Regions from separate parts of the Homo sapiens genome. Here region 2 is linked to region 1. The links come from fine-mapping of genetic effects on gene expression. A gene starts in region 1. The other region holds a variant in brackets. All regions are shown on one strand. Distances are between the middles of the regions.

What was found. PIP is the estimated chance that this variant, and not a neighbour inherited with it, causes the effect.
Region 2: its variant is fine-mapped to the expression of HES4 in monocytes after LPS (Fairfax 2014, PIP 0.95).

The regions. Positions count from the first base shown.
Region 1 is chr1:996,339-1,004,648 of GRCh38, reverse strand. HES4 (hes family bHLH transcription factor 4) reads left to right here and starts at 4,552. Exons shown (of 4, transcript NM_021170.4): 1 at 4,552-4,783; 2 at 4,862-4,957; 3 at 5,036-5,123; 4 at 5,217-5,685. The coding sequence starts at 4,676. The coding sequence ends at 5,590. RefSeq lists an enhancer at 2,370-2,509 and silencers at 2,560-2,909, 3,987-4,036, 4,137-4,516, 4,587-4,726, 5,277-5,586.
Region 2 is chr1:972,876-981,185 of GRCh38, reverse strand. It overlaps PLEKHN1 (pleckstrin homology domain containing N1), which reads right to left. Exons shown (of 16, transcript NM_032129.3): 11 at 8,176-8,310; 12 at 7,860-8,000; 13 at 7,546-7,686; 14 at 7,135-7,353; 15 at 6,822-6,870; 16 at 5,321-6,744. The coding sequence ends at 6,611. It overlaps PERM1 (PPARGC1 and ESRR induced regulator, muscle 1), which reads left to right. Exons shown (of 4, transcript NM_001394713.1): 2 at 13-2,305; 3 at 4,562-4,687; 4 at 4,917-5,988. The coding sequence starts at 157. The coding sequence ends at 5,014. Among named protein-coding and RNA genes, the nearest start is that of PERM1, 5.1 kb to the left of the region's middle. The variant T/C (reference allele first, on the strand shown) is at 4,971.

The DNA.
Region 1 (8,310 bases):
CAGGCAGGGTGGGGAGACTCCAGTACCATCCTGCTTGGAGACACAGCTCCCACCGCTGCTGAGAAGGCATGCAGGTGGGGTGGCAGTGGCACCAGCCTGGTGCTGCTGCTTCTGCCTGAGTCCTGGTCTCTCTCTGGCAGCCTGGATTCCTGCAGCCCTGGCCTTCTGTCACTACAATCCCAGCAAACACCCAGGAACAGCTCTGCGCCCACCTCGGCTCTCCGGGAGAGAAACCCACCCCCACCCCAGCCTTGGTTCCTCGGTGGCTTTGGCCCCAGCTGCCTGAGTGCACAGCCCGCTGCCCTGGGCAGGAGTTGGGGACCATGCTGAGGACCACCTGCAGGGGGTGGCTACAGGTCTCTGATGTCAGGAGTCAGTGTGTGAGGGGGGTGTTGAGGGCCGTGGCGAGATGGCAGCCGCCACCTCTGGGTCAGAGGTTGGGAGGGGAGGTCACAGCCAGCACCTCACAGGCCTTTTGGGGACACTGGCTGTGGTCATGGAGTGCGGCCACAGTGGCCCAATGTGAGGAGACCCCCCAACAAGGCTGAGGCCCCCCCAGGTCCAGCCTAGAAGACACCCCGGTTTTCCCCACAGTCTCCCCACTGGCGTGTGAATGTCCTCATCAGTCACCCCCCTTAGCTAACAGGGGGCTGTGCAGATGCCCCGGGGCCACCCGCCATTTGGAGCTTGACCCACTCAGGGCCAGGAGGTCGGCTGGATTTCAGTGGCTCCCAAGAAGCACCCGTTAGATGGGGGGGAGGGGTGGGGAAGTCGCTGAGCCTCTGCCTCTGTGGAAGAGAGGAAGGGATCAGCGAGGAGGGAGCAGGGGTGAGGAGGGAAGGGTCACTCTCCCTGGGTCAGGGCCCCAGCCCACCTCCACTATTCCAGTCTTGAGTGCCGCACCACAAACCACCCCAAAACAGCACGCTCAGCAACCACCCTACTGTGTGCGGGCAGCCTTGGAACGGGGCGCGCTGGGACCTGCGCCGGAAGCTGCTCAGGAGTCTGGAATCCAATGCTGATTCCTCCACGGGGCCTCTCCTTGAGGCCAGGGCGTGCTCCCTCCCAGCACGGCAGCTGGGTTCCAAGAGCGACTGTCCCAGGACAGCGAGGTACGCATGGCGTCTTCCAAGTCAGCCTCAGAAGTCATGTCCTGCCAAACACCCCATTCTTCCCAGCTGAGACTGTCACAGAGTCTCATGTAGAAGGCATTTCAAGATATGGGGATGGGAGATACTATCACGGCCGTCTCTGAAAAACGCAACCTGCCCCCAACCCAGGTGTCGGCACCATCCTGGGCTGCAGCCCAGGATCCACCCCCACACTCAGAGCAAGGGAACCCCAAGGCCCTCAGGAACCCTGAGGCCCCTACCACAAATCGAGGCCAGATTCGAGAGGCAGGGAGGGGACCATCAGAGGCCAAGGGCACAGACCCAGAGAGACAGACACACAGATGGGAGCTGTCCTGTGGCAAAGAAGGTGGGAGGAACACAGTCCCCGGAGATCCTGGAGTGGGCTCCCTGGCAGGGGGCAGGGAGCAGGGGGGTCTCTTCCTCTCCAGAAGAGCAGAGGCAAGTGCTGGTGGCCCCTCCTGCCTCTGCTCAGCAAGGACCCCAGCTGCTGCCCAGGGGCAGGAACCCTGGCAGATGGGCGTGGGTGCTCACTATGAGTTGGACGCCGTCAGTGGCTTTAAAAGTAGAATCTCCTGGCCAGGCACGGTGGCTCACACCTGTAATCCCAGCACTTTGGGAGGCTGAGGTGCGTGGATCACCTGAGGTGGGGAGTTTGAGACCAGCCTGACCAACATGGAGAAACTACATCTCTACTAAAAATACAAAAATTAGCCAGGTGTGGCGGCACACGCCTGTAATCCCAGCTACTCCAGAGGCTGAGGCAGGAGAATCGCTTGAATACAGGAAGCAGAGGTTGTGGTGAGCCCAGATCGTGCCACTGCACTCCAGCCTGAGCGACAAGAGTGAAACTCCGTCTCAAAAAAGAAAAAAAAAAAGTAGAATCTCCTATTAAGACCAGCCTGGCCAACACAGTGAAACCCCATCTCTACTAAAAATACAAAACACTAGCCGGGCGTGGTGGTACATGCTTGTAATCCCAGCTACTTGGGAGGCTGAGGCAGGAGAATCGCTTGAACCCGGGAGGCAAAGGTTGTGGTGCCACTGCACTCCAGCCTGGGCAACAGAGCGAGACGCTGCCTCAAAAAAAAAAAAAAAAAAAAGTTAGCTCCCTTTTACAGATGAGAAAACAGGTACAAGGAGGGGAAGTGAGCCCATCTAAAAACCAGTGAGGGAATGATCAGTCCCAGCCACGCTTGGCAGGGAGGAGACTCACGCCTGTAGTCCCAGCACGTTGGGAGGCCGAGGCAGGAGCATCGTCTCGGGCCAGGAGTTCGAGACCAGCCTGGGCAACATAGGGAGATCCCCATCTCTACAAAAAAAAAATAAATAAAAACGATCCTCAGGCTCCTCCTTCCATCCCGAACTCCCTGCCTGTCTAGGGACTGGGGGAGGCCCAGAGCCCCCCCAAATTTCTTCCCAAGCCGGGGCCCAGGGGCTGGGGAGATTCAGGCCGGCAGCTCCCCTGGGATGACCCCCAGCAGGAGGCGGCGGCGACTGCGGCCACTGGGGGCGCTCGCGGGCTTTCCCGCCCGGGCCCAGCGCTCAGGCCGGGGAGGGACGCGGGACGGGGACACCATCCACACCACCTCCTGGGCTACGGGGCCGGTCCGAGCCTCTCCAGCGCCGAGGCGCGCGCAGAGAGGTCGGGGCAGGAGAGCCGGGGCTTAAGTGCTCGCGGGGCCACCTCCGAGACGCCCGCCCAGCCCCCGCGGCTTTCCCCAGTCGGCGAGGGGCGCGGACAGCCTCTCGGCGGAGAGGGCGCCACCCCCGCTCCGGCCTCGCAGCCCCCCGCGCCCCTGTGCAAGCGGCGGGGTGTGGGGGGCGCCTCAGGGGCACCGCGGAGGGCCGGGGTCAGCGCCGCGAAGAGGGCGCCTTCCCGCGTGGGCCGCAGGACTTTGCTTGGGGCCAGATTAGACGTGGGGTCCGAGGGGAGGGGAAGCTTCCGCACAGAAACCCTGGGTCCAGGTGCCCGGGCAGGGGCGAACCTGCCAATCAGCCGACTCCCTGGCTCAGAAAAGCTCCCCAAAAAGTTCCCCGACTCCCTCCCCGACCAGAAGCTCCCGGTTCTCGCTGGCCCAGCTCCCCCTCCCCACCTCCCTCGTCCCTGCGCCCCCTTCGCACCCTGGGAATGCCACGCCCTCCCTTGAGGCTTCCCCCCTGAGGACCCCCCACCCCGCAGAAGCCTTTGGGACCACCCGGCGTCAAGAAGGCTTTTGTCCACCCAGGCCACCCACCTAATTCGGTTCTCTTACGTGACTGCTGAGTCTGCCATCTGCCTCCTGCCCGGATTGAAAGCCCGGGAGGGTCTCCACACCCGGGCCCAGGCCAGGCTCTCCAGGGGGCTCAGGAAGCCTCCGCTGCACGGACGCGTGAGGCCGCCGGGGACCCCGAGTGCGGAAAGGACCAACGTGCCCCGCAGCGGCATTCGAAATAAAAACAGCAAACACGAAAATAACCACAGCCCTGTTTTACGCAACCTGCCCCTTTGCAGTTATATTAACAGTGGCCCCTCATTTTTCTGTGAGCCCCACTTTGCTGCTGCTGAGTTCGCCAGCGGGTCACCTGGAAGCACGTGGCGACACGGGCCACATGACGTCATCCCAGCAGGCTTGCGTCATCGCCCCGGGTGCCTGGTGACGTCACCAGCCCGCTCGCGTCACGCGCACGTTCTGCTCCTCGTGGTCCGGCCCGGCCCGCGCCATCACCGGCCCTGCTCTGCGGGGCCACCCGTGCGCCCCTTCGCCGTCCGCTGACTCCGCCCTCCCGCCTGCCGACCCGGCCGCCGACCTTCCCCCGGCTCTGTCGCTCCCAAGGCTTTCTGCAGCCCTCCGTGCTCCAGGCCGCACACCTGAGGGTGGGACCCCCGGAGGCCGAGCCGGTGTCGGATCAAACTCGGAGACCGAGCAGGGCCCAAACCGGGACCGGAGTGGGGACGGGCGGAGGAAGCCAAGAGGCTCGAGACCGAGGCTCGCCCACCCCTCGGCGCCGCCGGACCCTGCGCCACTGGGGGAATTTCCTTCCCGACTTCCCGCGCGGCCACAGCCCCAGCTCCGTCCAGCCCCGGCTCCCGGCCCCCTGGGCGGGAGAGTGAGCCCCGAGACTCCGCCCAGCCCCGGGGGTCCCGGGCCCCGTTCGCCCCCAGCGGCCCCTCCCGGCGCGTTGCTCGGCCCCGGCTGCATCGGGGAGCGCGGGATCACCCGGCCCTGTCCCCAGCGGTGTCGGAGGGGGGCGCGGGCGGGGGCCCCGCATGCCATTGTCGCCCGCGGAGGCCGCGCCCGGAGCCGAGGCGTGACTGACAGCGAGCGGGGGAGGAGCGCGGCCGTCGATTGGCTGGGGCGAGTGTGGGAAAGAATGCGGAGCCGGGTTCACACACCCCGCGGCGGCGAGGCCTTAAATAGGGAAACGGCCTGAGGCGCGCGCGGGCCTGGAGCCGGGATCCGCCCTAGGGGCTCGGATCGCCGCGCGCTCGCCGCTCGCCCGCCAGCCCGCCCGTGGTCCGTGGCGGCGCGCTCCACCCGGCACGGGGAGGCGCGGGGCGCACCATGGCCGCAGACACGCCGGGGAAACCGAGCGCCTCGCCGATGGCAGGAGCGCCGGCCAGCGCCAGCCGGACCCCAGACAAGCCCCGGAGCGCGGCCGAGCACCGCAAGGTGGGGTCCCGGCCGGGCGTGAGGGGGGCGACCGGGGGGCGGGAGGGACGCGGGACTCAGCCGGTGCCCGACCCGCAGTCCTCCAAGCCGGTCATGGAGAAGCGGCGCCGAGCGCGTATTAACGAGAGCCTCGCTCAGCTCAAAACCCTCATCCTGGACGCCCTCAGAAAAGAGGTAAGTCGGGGGCGAAGGCCCGAGACCCGGAGTCTGGGTCGCAGCTGACCTGGACCTCCCGCCTATCCCCGCCCCCAGAGCTCCCGCCACTCGAAGCTGGAGAAGGCGGACATCCTGGAGATGACCGTGAGACACCTGCGGAGCCTGCGTCGCGTGCAGGTGACGGGTGAGGCGCGGGCGGCGGCGGCTTGGAGGCGGGGGGAGGGCGCGGGACCCCCGGGACCCGGCACCGACCTCTCCTCCTGTGTCGCTCCCGCAGCCGCGCTCAGCGCCGACCCCGCCGTTCTGGGCAAGTACCGCGCCGGCTTCCACGAGTGTCTGGCGGAGGTGAACCGCTTCCTGGCCGGCTGCGAGGGCGTCCCGGCCGACGTGCGCTCCCGCCTGCTGGGCCACCTGGCAGCCTGCCTGCGCCAGCTGGGACCCTCCCGCCGCCCGGCCTCGCTGTCCCCGGCTGCCCCCGCAGAGGCCCCAGCGCCCGAGGTCTACGCGGGCCGCCCGCTGCTGCCATCGCTCGGCGGCCCCTTCCCTCTGCTCGCGCCGCCGCTGCTGCCGGGTCTGACCCGGGCGCTGCCCGCCGCCCCCAGGGCGGGGCCGCAGGGCCCGGGTGGGCCCTGGAGGCCGTGGCTGCGCTGAGGCTGTGGCCCTGAGACTGCATCGGAGGCGGCGCCCCGTTCTAGGGCCGTGGCCTTTGCCGAGACTGTAGCAGAGAAAACGTATTTATTATTCCAGAGTCTGCGTCACGAGTTTTCTTTCTTTGTCTTGGTGAAGAGTTGACTTTGGGAGCGCCCCGCAGCCACGCCGCGCCGGGGTCCCGCCCTCCTCCCAGGGCCGCGGTCTGCAGGTGGCTGGGGGCGTCGGGCGGGCCCGGGGGGGCGGGCTGGGGGCGGGACCGAGGACTGAGGGCGACCCCTCCGCTCCGCGCCCTCCGCTCCGCGCCCTCCCCTCCGCATCCCTGCAGCCCCGCATGCGCACCCGCCCTCTGCCCCCGCGTTGGGTTTGCCTCGCTCTGCGGTGGCGGTTGTGAGGGGTCCCCCCGGAGGCTCAGGTGGGAAGCTCAACGTCCCTGAGTGCCCAGAATCTTCCCGGTGCTGGAAGGCGGTCGCGCAGCATCGCCGGGCAAGTTACTTTTCGGAGGCCCCTTTCCCGACTCCCAGTCCCCGGACCGCGGAAGGCGGAGGCTGCGGTCCTGAGCGGCGCTGGGATGAGGGCGGCCGCCCTTGGCCCTGAAGACCCCCGCTGGGTTCTCCTGTTAAGTGCAGAGCTGCCCGTGCCCACCGCAGACCCCTCCTCCAGGCGTCTGTGCGGGGGGCGCCCGGCGGGAGCGCGCGGGTCCGAGCTGGGCTGTGGACACCGAGTGCCGGGGCCAAGGACGTCGCTCACGAGGGCGTCGGCCCTGCCCGCAGCCTCCCCTGCCCCGGTAAGGGAGGTTCCGCCTCCCCAGTGGGTGAGGACTGGGGGCTCCTCCCTCATCGTCCCGAGCACGTGCCGTTGTCGACCACCGAGTTACCAGGCAGCGCCGGACGTTCCCCTGAACCAGCGCCGCGGTCGCCATCCCGGTCCCGCGTTCGGGGGGGTCCGGCGCAGTTCGAGGCACTCAGCCGAGGCAGAGGGTCTCCCCCTGAGCCGCACCCAGGGCCATTTCCCAACTGGGGCCGAGTTCACCAGGGCCCACGGGAGGCGAGCGAGCCCTCCCACCAGCACTGGCCCTCCAGGCCCCAGTCTGTGCCTCCATCAGGAGCCCCCCTGGGCCCTCCAGGACACAGCCGTGCACAGCTTGTAGGAGCCTCCCAGGCCCAACAAGCCAGGCCACCCCTGGCCCCTGGCTGCCCTGCCCCCTCCCTGAGCTCCGAGGGCCAGGCCAGTGACCCTGGGCGGGGTAGCATTGGGCTGGGGGTCCCACCCTTGGTCCCCCCAGCAGTCCTACTCTGGGGGTCCTGGTCCCAGGAGAGCCTCAAAGTAGCCCTTCCCCTTGGGAGCCTGAGACCCCATGAGGGAGGCCCCCTTCTCCTTGGGAGCTTGAGACCCCGTGAGGGAGGCCCCCTTCCCCTTGGGAGCTTGAGACCCCGTGAGGGAGGCCTCCTCAGCAGCACAGGAAGGGACGGTCTTCTTGGGGGCAGCTGGAAGCTCAGCGTGGCCGGGGGAGGGGAGTTGCTCAGAGAAGGCATCAGTGCAGAAGGGGAAGGAGGGCCTGGGGCAGCGAAGCTGGGAGTGTGGGGAGGAGCTCAGGGTAAGAGAGGCACCCCACAAAGTCACCCGGGCTGTGGGTCCCAAGAGGGCAGGGCATCTCTCCACCAGGCTCTGGCCTTGAATGCCCTCTCCACTGTGGCGAAAGGGCCCTGCATAGCTGCCCAGGGACCACTCAGGTTCTGGGGGAATCACAGTCCTTGGGCAGTCCCTTCGCAGTCTGGGTTCCTTTGTGCTCCACACCACCTGCCCCCTGGCTTTTCCCCCTTGTTTCCTCCTAACTTGTCGTCCATCCCATCTGCCGCAGGCTGGGTGGTGCATCATCCGGGCCCAGCTGGACGGGGCTCCAGAGGGCGAGGGCTGAGTCTGTCCAGAAGCTCTGTCCTCAGCACCCAAAACAGGGAAATGGACCCACGGGGACCTAATCCATCCCTTTGAATGACAGAGCTGGGAGGTTTGGGTTAGACTAGCGAGGTCTCAGGAAACACAGCCTGAGGGGCCGGGCTGGACGGGGGCAGCATAGGGGCTGTCCTGGGCTCCCCCTCAGGCCGCCCCCTTCTCAGAGCCCCCCTCGGGCCTCCGGGAGCCAGCCTCTGCCTACACCCAGCCAGGACGCCCACCAGAACCTGCTTAGGCACGCGGGGGTTCTTTCTGCCCTCCCCACCCTGCATCCTGTGGCCCCAGACGTGAGGTGCCCCCTCCCGCGGGGGGTCCTTTCTGCCCTCCCCACCCTGCATCCTGTGGCCCCAGATGTGGGGTGCCCCCTCCAGCGGGGGTTCTTTCTGCCCTCCCCACCCTGCATCCTGTGGCCCCAGACGTGAGGTGCCCCCTCCCGCGGGGGGTCCTTTCTGCCCTCCCCACCCTGCATCCTGTGGCCCCAGATGTGGGGTGCCCCCTCCAGCGGGGGGTCCTTTCTGTCCTCCCCACCCTGCATCCTGTGGCCCCAGACGTGAGGTGCCCCCTCCAGCGGGGGGTCCTTTCTGCCCTCCCCACCCTGCATCCTGTGGCCCCAGATGTGGGGTGCCCCCTCCAGCGGGGGGTCCTTTCTGTCCTCCCCACCCTGCATCCTGTGGCCCCAGACGTGGGGTGCCCCCTCCAGCGGGGGGTCCTTTCTGCCCTCCCCACCCTGCATCCTGTGGCCCCAGATGTGGGGTGCCTCTTCCCGCGGG
Region 2 (8,310 bases), 23 kb after region 1:
TCTTCCTTTCAGGGCATGGATGGAGCCCCGAGGCGGTGGGAGCTCCCAGGTCTCGTGGGGCAGGGGCGGCATGTGCAGGGTGGTGCCCGGGGCCTGAACCCATGAAGACCCCACCGGACCCATTCTGCTACCCTCCAGTGCCTCTGCTGACTCCACATGGAAAATTTCCAGTACAGCGTCCAGCTGAGTGACCAGGACTGGGCCGAGTTCTCAGCCACCGCCGATGAGTGTGGCCTCCTGCAGGCCGGCCTGGCCTCTGGGGACGAGCTCTTGTCCAGTGACATTGACCAAGGGGACAGCAGTGGCAGCAGTCCCCCCAGGGCCCCACCTCTCCCAACTGGGCAGCTAGCTGCAGGAGGGCGGAGCCGGCGGGGCTGCGAGGAGGAGGACGTGGCCACACAGCAGCCGGTCAGCAGGTCTCAGGGTGAGCCTGTCTTGGCCCTGGGGACCGGTCAGCAGACACCCAGCACGTCCGCACGGGCAGAAGCTCCACCGTCCCTCGGCCCCGGCGCCAGCCCTCCCAGCCAGTTCTCATCCTGCCCTGGTCCGGCGTCTTCTGGAGACCAGATGCAGAGGCTTCTGCAGGGCCCTGCCCCACGGCCCCCTGGTGAGCCCCCTGGGAGTCCCAAGTCCCCTGGCCACAGCACTGGCTCCCAGAGGCCCCCCGATAGCCCTGGAGCCCCACCACGGAGCCCCAGCCGAAAGAAGAGGCGAGCTGTGGGTGCCAAGGGGGGTGGGCACACAGGAGCCTCTGCTTCTGCCCAGACGGGCTCCCCGCTGCTCCCTGCGGCCAGTCCTGAGACGGCAAAGCTGATGGCCAAAGCCGGGCAGGAGGAGTTGGGGCCAGGTCCTGCAGGAGCTCCTGAGCCTGGCCCCAGGTCCCCTGTGCAGGAAGACAGACCAGGGCCAGGTTTGGGCCTGTCTACACCTGTCCCTGTGACAGAGCAAGGCACAGACCAAATCAGAACCCCGCGCCGAGCCAAGCTGCACACAGTGTCCACGACTGTCTGGGAAGCCCTCCCAGATGTCTCAAGGGCTAAGTCAGACATGGCTGTGTCTACACCTGCCTCCGAGCCGCAACCTGACAGGGACATGGCTGTGTCTACACCTGCCTCCGAGCCGCAATCTGACAGGGACATGGCTGTGTCTACACCTGCCTCTGAGCCGCAACCTGACACGGACATGGCTGTGTCTACACCTGCCTCTGAGCCGCAACCTGACAGGGACATGGCTGTGTCTATACCTGCCTCCAAGCCGCAATCTGACACGGCTGTGTCTACACCAGCTTCTGAGCCTCAGTCCAGTGTGGCTCTGTCTACACCCATCTCCAAGCCACAATTGGACACGGACGTGGCTGTGTCCACACCTGCCTCCAAACATGGCCTGGATGTGGCCTTGCCTACAGCAGGCCCAGTGGCTAAGCTAGAGGTGGCTTCATCTCCACCTGTCTCGGAGGCTGTGCCGAGGATGACCGAGTCCAGCGGGCTTGTGTCTACACCTGTTCCCAGAGCCGACGCCGCTGGCCTCGCCTGGCCTCCCACCCGCAGAGCTGGGCCTGATGTGGTGGAGATGGAGGCGGTTGTGTCTGAGCCCTCAGCAGGGGCCCCCGGATGCTGCTCTGGGGCACCCGCACTGGGTCTCACCCAAGTCCCCAGGAAGAAGAAAGTGCGCTTCTCCGTGGCTGGGCCCAGCCCCAATAAGCCAGGCTCAGGACAGGCCTCAGCCCGGCCCTCAGCCCCCCAGACAGCAACTGGGGCCCACGGGGGGCCCGGAGCCTGGGAGGCTGTGGCTGTCGGGCCCCGGCCCCACCAGCCTCGGATCCTCAAGCACCTGCCTCGCCCCCCTCCCTCTGCCGTGACGAGGGTCGGGCCCGGGAGCAGCTTTGCCGTGACCCTCCCGGAGGCCTACGAGTTCTTCTTCTGTGACACCATCGAGGAGAACGAAGAGGCTGAGGCGGCAGCGGCCGGTCAGGATCCGGCAGGCGTCCAGTGGCCGGACATGTGCGAGTTCTTCTTCCCAGACGTTGGAGCCCAGAGGTCGAGGCGGCGGGGGTCCCCGGAGCCGCTCCCGAGAGCTGATCCTGTGCCGGCCCCCATACCTGGAGACCCCGTGCCCATCTCCATCCCTGAGGTCTATGAACACTTCTTCTTCGGGGAGGACAGGCTTGAGGGCGTGCTGGGGCCGGCTGTCCCGCTCCCACTGCAGGCCCTGGAGCCTCCCCGGTCGGCCTCCGAGGGGGCGGGGCCTGGGACCCCCCTCAAGCCAGCCGTGGTAGAGCGGCTCCACCTGGCTCTTAGACGGGCAGGTACGTGCTCTCGGATCCCACAGCCCGTCCAGATCCCAGGCACACACTGTCCAGGGATCTTGGCCAAGCAGGGGGCCGCAGGGGCCGGGCAGGCCGGGCTTGGGTCATCCCCTAGCAGGGGAGCCTGGGGACCAGCCCCCAGTCATCCCAGCACACAGTCCAGATGGGGCGGCCCAGTCCAAGCACCCGGGTTGTTCAGGGGGTTGGCTCTGCGCCGCCGTTGCCCTGTGTTCGGGCCCATGTGACGGCGGCGTCCCTCCCCCAGCCTCTGGCAGGGTTCCCGCCCAGGCCTGGCTACCTTCAGGGTCAGGCACTCTACGAGGCCCATCTCACACTGATGTCCTCTGGGAGATGCTTTACAGACCAGAACACGGGGCCTCCACTGGCAGTTCCCCCAAACTGGCCCAACTCAACCAGGTCACCCAAATCTCAGGCAGAAGAAGCACGGGGGCGATGTGACTCCGACAGACGCGTCCAGGGCGGGCGGTTCCCGGGGCAGGCGGTTCCCGGGGCAACCAGTTCTCAGGAAGACGTGTCCATGACAGAGGGGTTTCGGGAAGACGTGTCCAGGGTAGACGTGTCCAGCACAAATGTATCTTAGGACAGACATGTCCCATGATGGATGTATCTGGGGCAGGCGGTTCCCGGGGCGGGCGTGTGCGGGGCAGGCAGTTCCCAGGCCAAGAGTGTGCAGGGTTAGGGTGGGGCAGGCGGTTCCTGGGGTTGGAGGGGGAGGCAGGCGGTTCCCGGGGCGGCCGTGTGCGGGGCAGGTGGTTCCCGGGGTTGCGGGGGAAGCGGCTCCCGGGGCAGGCAGTTCCTGGGGTTGGGGGGGGTTGGGAGGCGGTTCCTGGGGTTGGGGGGGGTTGGGAGGCGGTTCCTGGGGTTGGGGGGATTGGGAGGCGGTTCCCGGGGTTGGTCGGTGGGGGCAGGCGGTTCCCGGGGTTGCGGGGTGGTGGGAGGCGGTTCCCGGGGTTGCGGGGGGAGTGGGAGGCGGTTCCCGGGGTTGGGGGTGGTGGGAGGCAGTTCCCGGGGTTGGGGGGATTGGGAGGCGGTTCCCGGGGTTGGTGGGGGTGGGAGGCAGTTCCCGGGGTTGGGGGGATTGGGAGGCGGTTCCCGGGGTTGGTGGGGGTGGGAGGCGGTTCCCGGGGTTGGTCGGTGGGGGCAGGCGGTTCCCGGGGTTGCGGGGGGAGCGGGAGGCGGTTCCCGGGGTTGGTGGGGGGAGCGGGAGGCGGTTCCCGGGGTTGGTGGGGGGAGCGGGAGGCGGTTCCCGGGGTTGGTGGGGGGAGCGGGAGGCGGTTCCCGGGGTTGGTGGGGGGAGCGGGAGGCGGTTCCCGGGGTTGGTGGGGGGAGCGGGAGGCGGTTCCCGGGGTTGGTGGGGGGAGCGGGAGGCGGTTCCCGGGGTTGGTGGGGGGAGCGGGAGGCGGTTCCCGGGGTTGGTGGGGGGAGCGGGAGGCGGTTCCCGGGGTTGGTGGGGGGAGCGGGAGGCGGTTCCCGGGGTTGGTGGGGGGAGCGGGAGGCGGTTCCCGGGGTTGGTGGGGGGAGCGGGAGGCGGTTCCCGGGGTTGCGGGGGGAGTGGGAGGCGGTTCCCGGGGTTGGTCGGTGGGGGCAGGCGGTTCCCGGGGTTGGCGGGGTGGTGGGAGGCGGTTCCCGGGGTTGGTGGGGGGAGCGGGAGGCGGTTCCCGGGGTTGGTGGGGGGAGCGGGAGGCGGTTCCCGGGGTTGGTGGGGGGAGCGGGAGGCGGTTCCCGGGGTTGGTGGGGGGAGCGGGAGGCGGTTCCCGGGGTTGCGGGGGGAGCGGGAGGCGGTTCCCGGGGTTGGTGGGGGGAGCGGGAGGCGGTTCCCGGGGTTGGTGGGGGGAGCGGGAGGCGGTTCCCGGGGTTGCGGGGGGAGTGGGAGGCGGTTCCCGGGGTTGCGGGGGGAGTGGGAGGCGGTTCCCGGGGTTGGCGGGGGGAGTGGGAGGCGGTTCCCGGGGTTGGCGGGGGGAGTGGGAGGCGGTTCCCGGGGTTGGCGGGGGGAGTGGGAGGCGGTTCCCGGGGTTGGCGGGGGGAGTGGGAGGCGGTTCCCGGGGTTGGCGGGGGGAGTGGGAGGCGGTTCCCGGGGTTGGCGGGGGGAGTGGGAGGCGGTTCCCGGGGTTGGCGGGGGGAGTGGGAGGCGGTTCCCGGGGTTGGTGGGGGTGGGGGCAGGCGGTTCCCGGGGCGGGCGTGTGCGGGGCCATCTCTGAGTGCAGCCGTGGGGCTGAAGGTGAGCTTCTGTCCTAGGGGAGCTCCGGGGGCCTGTCCCATCATTTGCCTTCAGCCAGAATGACATGTGCCTGGTGTTTGTAGCTTTTGCCACCTGGGCTGTGAGGACGTCAGATCCGCATACCCCAGACGCCTGGAAAACAGGTTTGGGTGCCTGGGGGCAGAGGGAGCTGCGCCTAGAAGCCAGACCGAGGGGCGCTGGCAGGACGAGGGGTGCACGGGGGCCCCGGGGCTCACCCCTGACCTGCTCCCCCCAGGCTGAGCTGCGGCCCTGGCCGCACCGACCTTGCCCGCCCTTTGAGGGCTGGGTCTTGCGGGCAGACGGTGCCGACAGCCAGGCTGGCCCTCAGAAGAGCCTGTGCTTCTCTTGCAGCCTTGCTGGCCAACGTCGGCACCATCTCTGCCATCCGCTACTTCCGCCGGCAGG[T/C]GGGGCAAGGGCGCCGCAGCCACAGCCCCAGCCCCAGCTCCTAGGAGCCAGGCCCGGGCCAGGGAGATGCAGGATGAGGAGACGACCACAGGCGCCCAGGGCAGGACGAGGTGCCGCCCTCGCCCGGGCCCTCTGACCCCTCTCTTCTACCGCGTCCAGGAGGGGGGCGTGTCCTGGTGCTGCTCCCTCCGACTCACCTGAGGATCCAGCCAGTGACCACGGCCACTCCCCACGCCTGGGAGGGAGGTGCTAAAGTCTGGGTGGGTGGAGGGCAGGCAGGTGGCTGGGTAGGAGGGTGGCCAGATTCACAGATGAGAACACAGGGCATTCGGTTAATTTCAGACAGGCAATAGTGGGGAGGTCATTTTACTAAGAAGTTGTTGTTTATCTGAAATCAAATGCAACCGCACCCTGCGTTTCTTCTGGGGTGCAGGGGGAGCTGAGTGGCAGGACAGGACTTGGACCTCGGAGGGGTCTGAGCAGCAAGACACTCCGGCTGGAGCTCTGGGCAGAGGCAGGGGAGAGGACACAGGGTGGCCTCAAAGAGGGGATGGGCAGCCTCCTCACAGGTGGGCTGGGCTGGCAAGGGCTCCAAGGCCCATCACTCTTGATCCTCAAAGGACTGTGGCCAAGGCCTCTGCGGGCTCTGGCCTGAGACAGCGAAGGCTCTGCCTGCCCCTCCCCAGTGCAGCAGCCCCTGCAGGGTGGGGGTCTGTGGCAGAGCCGCGAGCCCCTCCCCGGGAGCCCTGGGTGCAGGTGCAGAGGGAGAATTCGGTGGCCTCAGATGGAGGGCTGGGCTCCTGGGGTTGTCCCGGGGGCTCCTGTGGGGCAGCTGGGGACCCACAGCCAAGAGGAGTCAGAGATGAGGTGGGAAGGTCGGTGAGGGGCCCGAGGTGGCAGAGGAAGGGGGCTGCCTGGCTGGGTGCTGGGTGGGGGTCCTCAAGACTGTGGGAGACCCTGGCTGCTGAGCAGAGAACACATGGATGCAGCACCAATAAAATTCTATCTTTTCTTTTTCTTTCTTCCTTTTCTTATTCTCTCTCTCTCTTTCCTTCTCTTCTCTTCTCTCTTCTCTTCTTTTCTCTCTTCTCCTCTCTCTCTTCTCTCTTTTTTCTTTCTCGTCCGGTGGTGTCAACGTCTCCCGTGCTGCCCTGTGGTGCGCGCCAGGCCACACAAGGACCCACCCACCCTCCTCCTCGGGGCACCCTGGCTTGTGCTCCTCACACCTTGCTGACCTGTGACCCTCATGCCCTCTGACCTCACATACTCTGACCCTGCTGACCTTTCTCTGTCCTCCGACCTTCACGCCCGTGCTGCCCTCCCACTCCCAGCGAGTCTCCTCCCTGACTCCTGGCGGGCTGAGCTGAGGGCCGACCCTGTGGACGGCCAGGACCTCCCTGACCTGTGACCCAGCCTCGCTGGCCAGGGCATCCTTTGGATGGGGCCCCTCCCACCCTTCCCTGCCCCAGCTGCTGGCACCAAGGAACAGGAGCTGAGGGACGGGCTCTGAACTCAGGGCCCCAGAGACTCCCCCCATCACACTGGGTTCAGACCCTGACTTGTAATTTGAAGTGGGTTAGAGGGGCAGGTACCCTGGAGCTTGGCGAGGGTGGTCCTGAGAACCCACCTCACCGCGGCCATCAGATCCACTGCACAAGCCCCCCACTGGCCTCAGGCCCTCCAAGCTGGGGGCACTTCTGGTGGGAGGAAGACAAAGTCTCGTCCCAGAGGTGGTCGTAGCCGGGGTCCCGGCTCCTCCTGGGGGACCGACCATCTGGTAGGGAAGGCAGAGATGTGTCAGCCTGTGGGAGGCAACAGGCACTCACCTCAGGAGGCAGGATCCTTACTCACCTGTCAGAGGCAGCCAGGGTTCGGGCGAACCTTCCCTGGCAGAGGAGACCTGGAACCCCAAACCGCAAGTCTGAGAGCCGGGCACAGCCCCAGGCAGGGAGCTTGGAGGCGGCCTGTCACTGTGCAGCCCCCCATGTCCCCCTGCTCTCCCTCCCCAGTCCCATCTCCCCAACTCCCTACTGGCCCCCCTGGCCTCCATCTGCCCCCGTCCTCCTGTTTCCCTCCCTGCTCCCTCAGAGTCCCAAGAGGCCCCACACCAGACCCCCGGCCAGCCCGGAGCCCGGGGCACACGGGCGTGGGGGCTGCTACTCACAAGCTGAGGGGCGTCTGGGGGCTGCGGCCCCCCATCCTTGGCTGAGCCCCGGTGTCTCTGAGCGGCTCTGGACTGCAGGGCTCCCTTCTTGGAGAGCAAGTAGGGGCCAGCGGGGCCGGAGGAGCAGGAGCGAGGGTCAGAGGCAGGCACAGACACAGGCACCGAGGGGAGTGGGCTCGAGGGCGTGGGTCCACGTGCACTCTGCATGGCACTGAGGAACTGCAGGGAGAGCCAGGGCTGGGGCCTGGGTGGCAGCCAGGGGCCCCCAGAACCTCAACCTCCCATCAGAGCCTGAACAGACCTCAGGCTTGGGGCAGCCCCAGACCCCAGGGTGAGACGCACGGTCTAGACCTCCCCAGCCTCAGGCTGCAGGCACCTCCCACCCTTTCTGTCACCCAGCAGGGGCCTGACCTCCTCCAGGCCCCGGACATCTGTGACCCTGCGGTGGGAGGTGGCGGGTGGTGTGTAGGGGTCGGCATAGAGGGGCGAGTGTGATGTTTCCGAAGTGTGGTCAGGGGCATCTGGGCTGCTCTCCAGGCTCAGCCTGTGCAGCTGCAGGGCAGAGGTGGGAGAAATGGGCTTCTCGGCTAGAAACAGCCTAGGCCACCCCTTCTCTGTGCAAGAGGCCTCTGGGTGGCTCCAGGACAACTGGGCCCAGAGACAGAGACCAGTGGTGCGGAACGGTGGGAACCAGGCCAGGGGCTGTGTGGGTGTGCTGGGCCCACCTGGGTCAGGTCCAGGTGCAGTGGGGTGACAGGGCCGCGGCCCTCTGCCCGGGCCTTGCTCCCGGGTGACCGGCTGCTGCCACTGCGTCTCAGCTCGGTCCTCCGTCGGCCAATGCTGGCACGGTCAGAGTTGGCCTGGTCCTGTGGGGACCACAAACCTTCCAGGAAGAGCCCTTTGGCCCCTCTCCCGTGCAACTCTCTGAGGCTGCAAGGGGCTCCCTCCAGTCTGAGTTCCCCTGAGGAACCAGGGTCCCCAACACACACCTACCCGACAGCCTTCTGCCCCACTTTCGTCTGCCACCCCGTAAGCGCTCACCGGTGTGTGCTGGGAGGAGCAGCCCACGGTGGATGGCACTGAGGACTCAGGCAGGGAGTGGCTGGTGCGGGTGGAGGGGGGCGCCAAGCACCCCGAGTCCCAGCTGGTCTGTCCGCCTGAGGAGAGTGAGCCTCG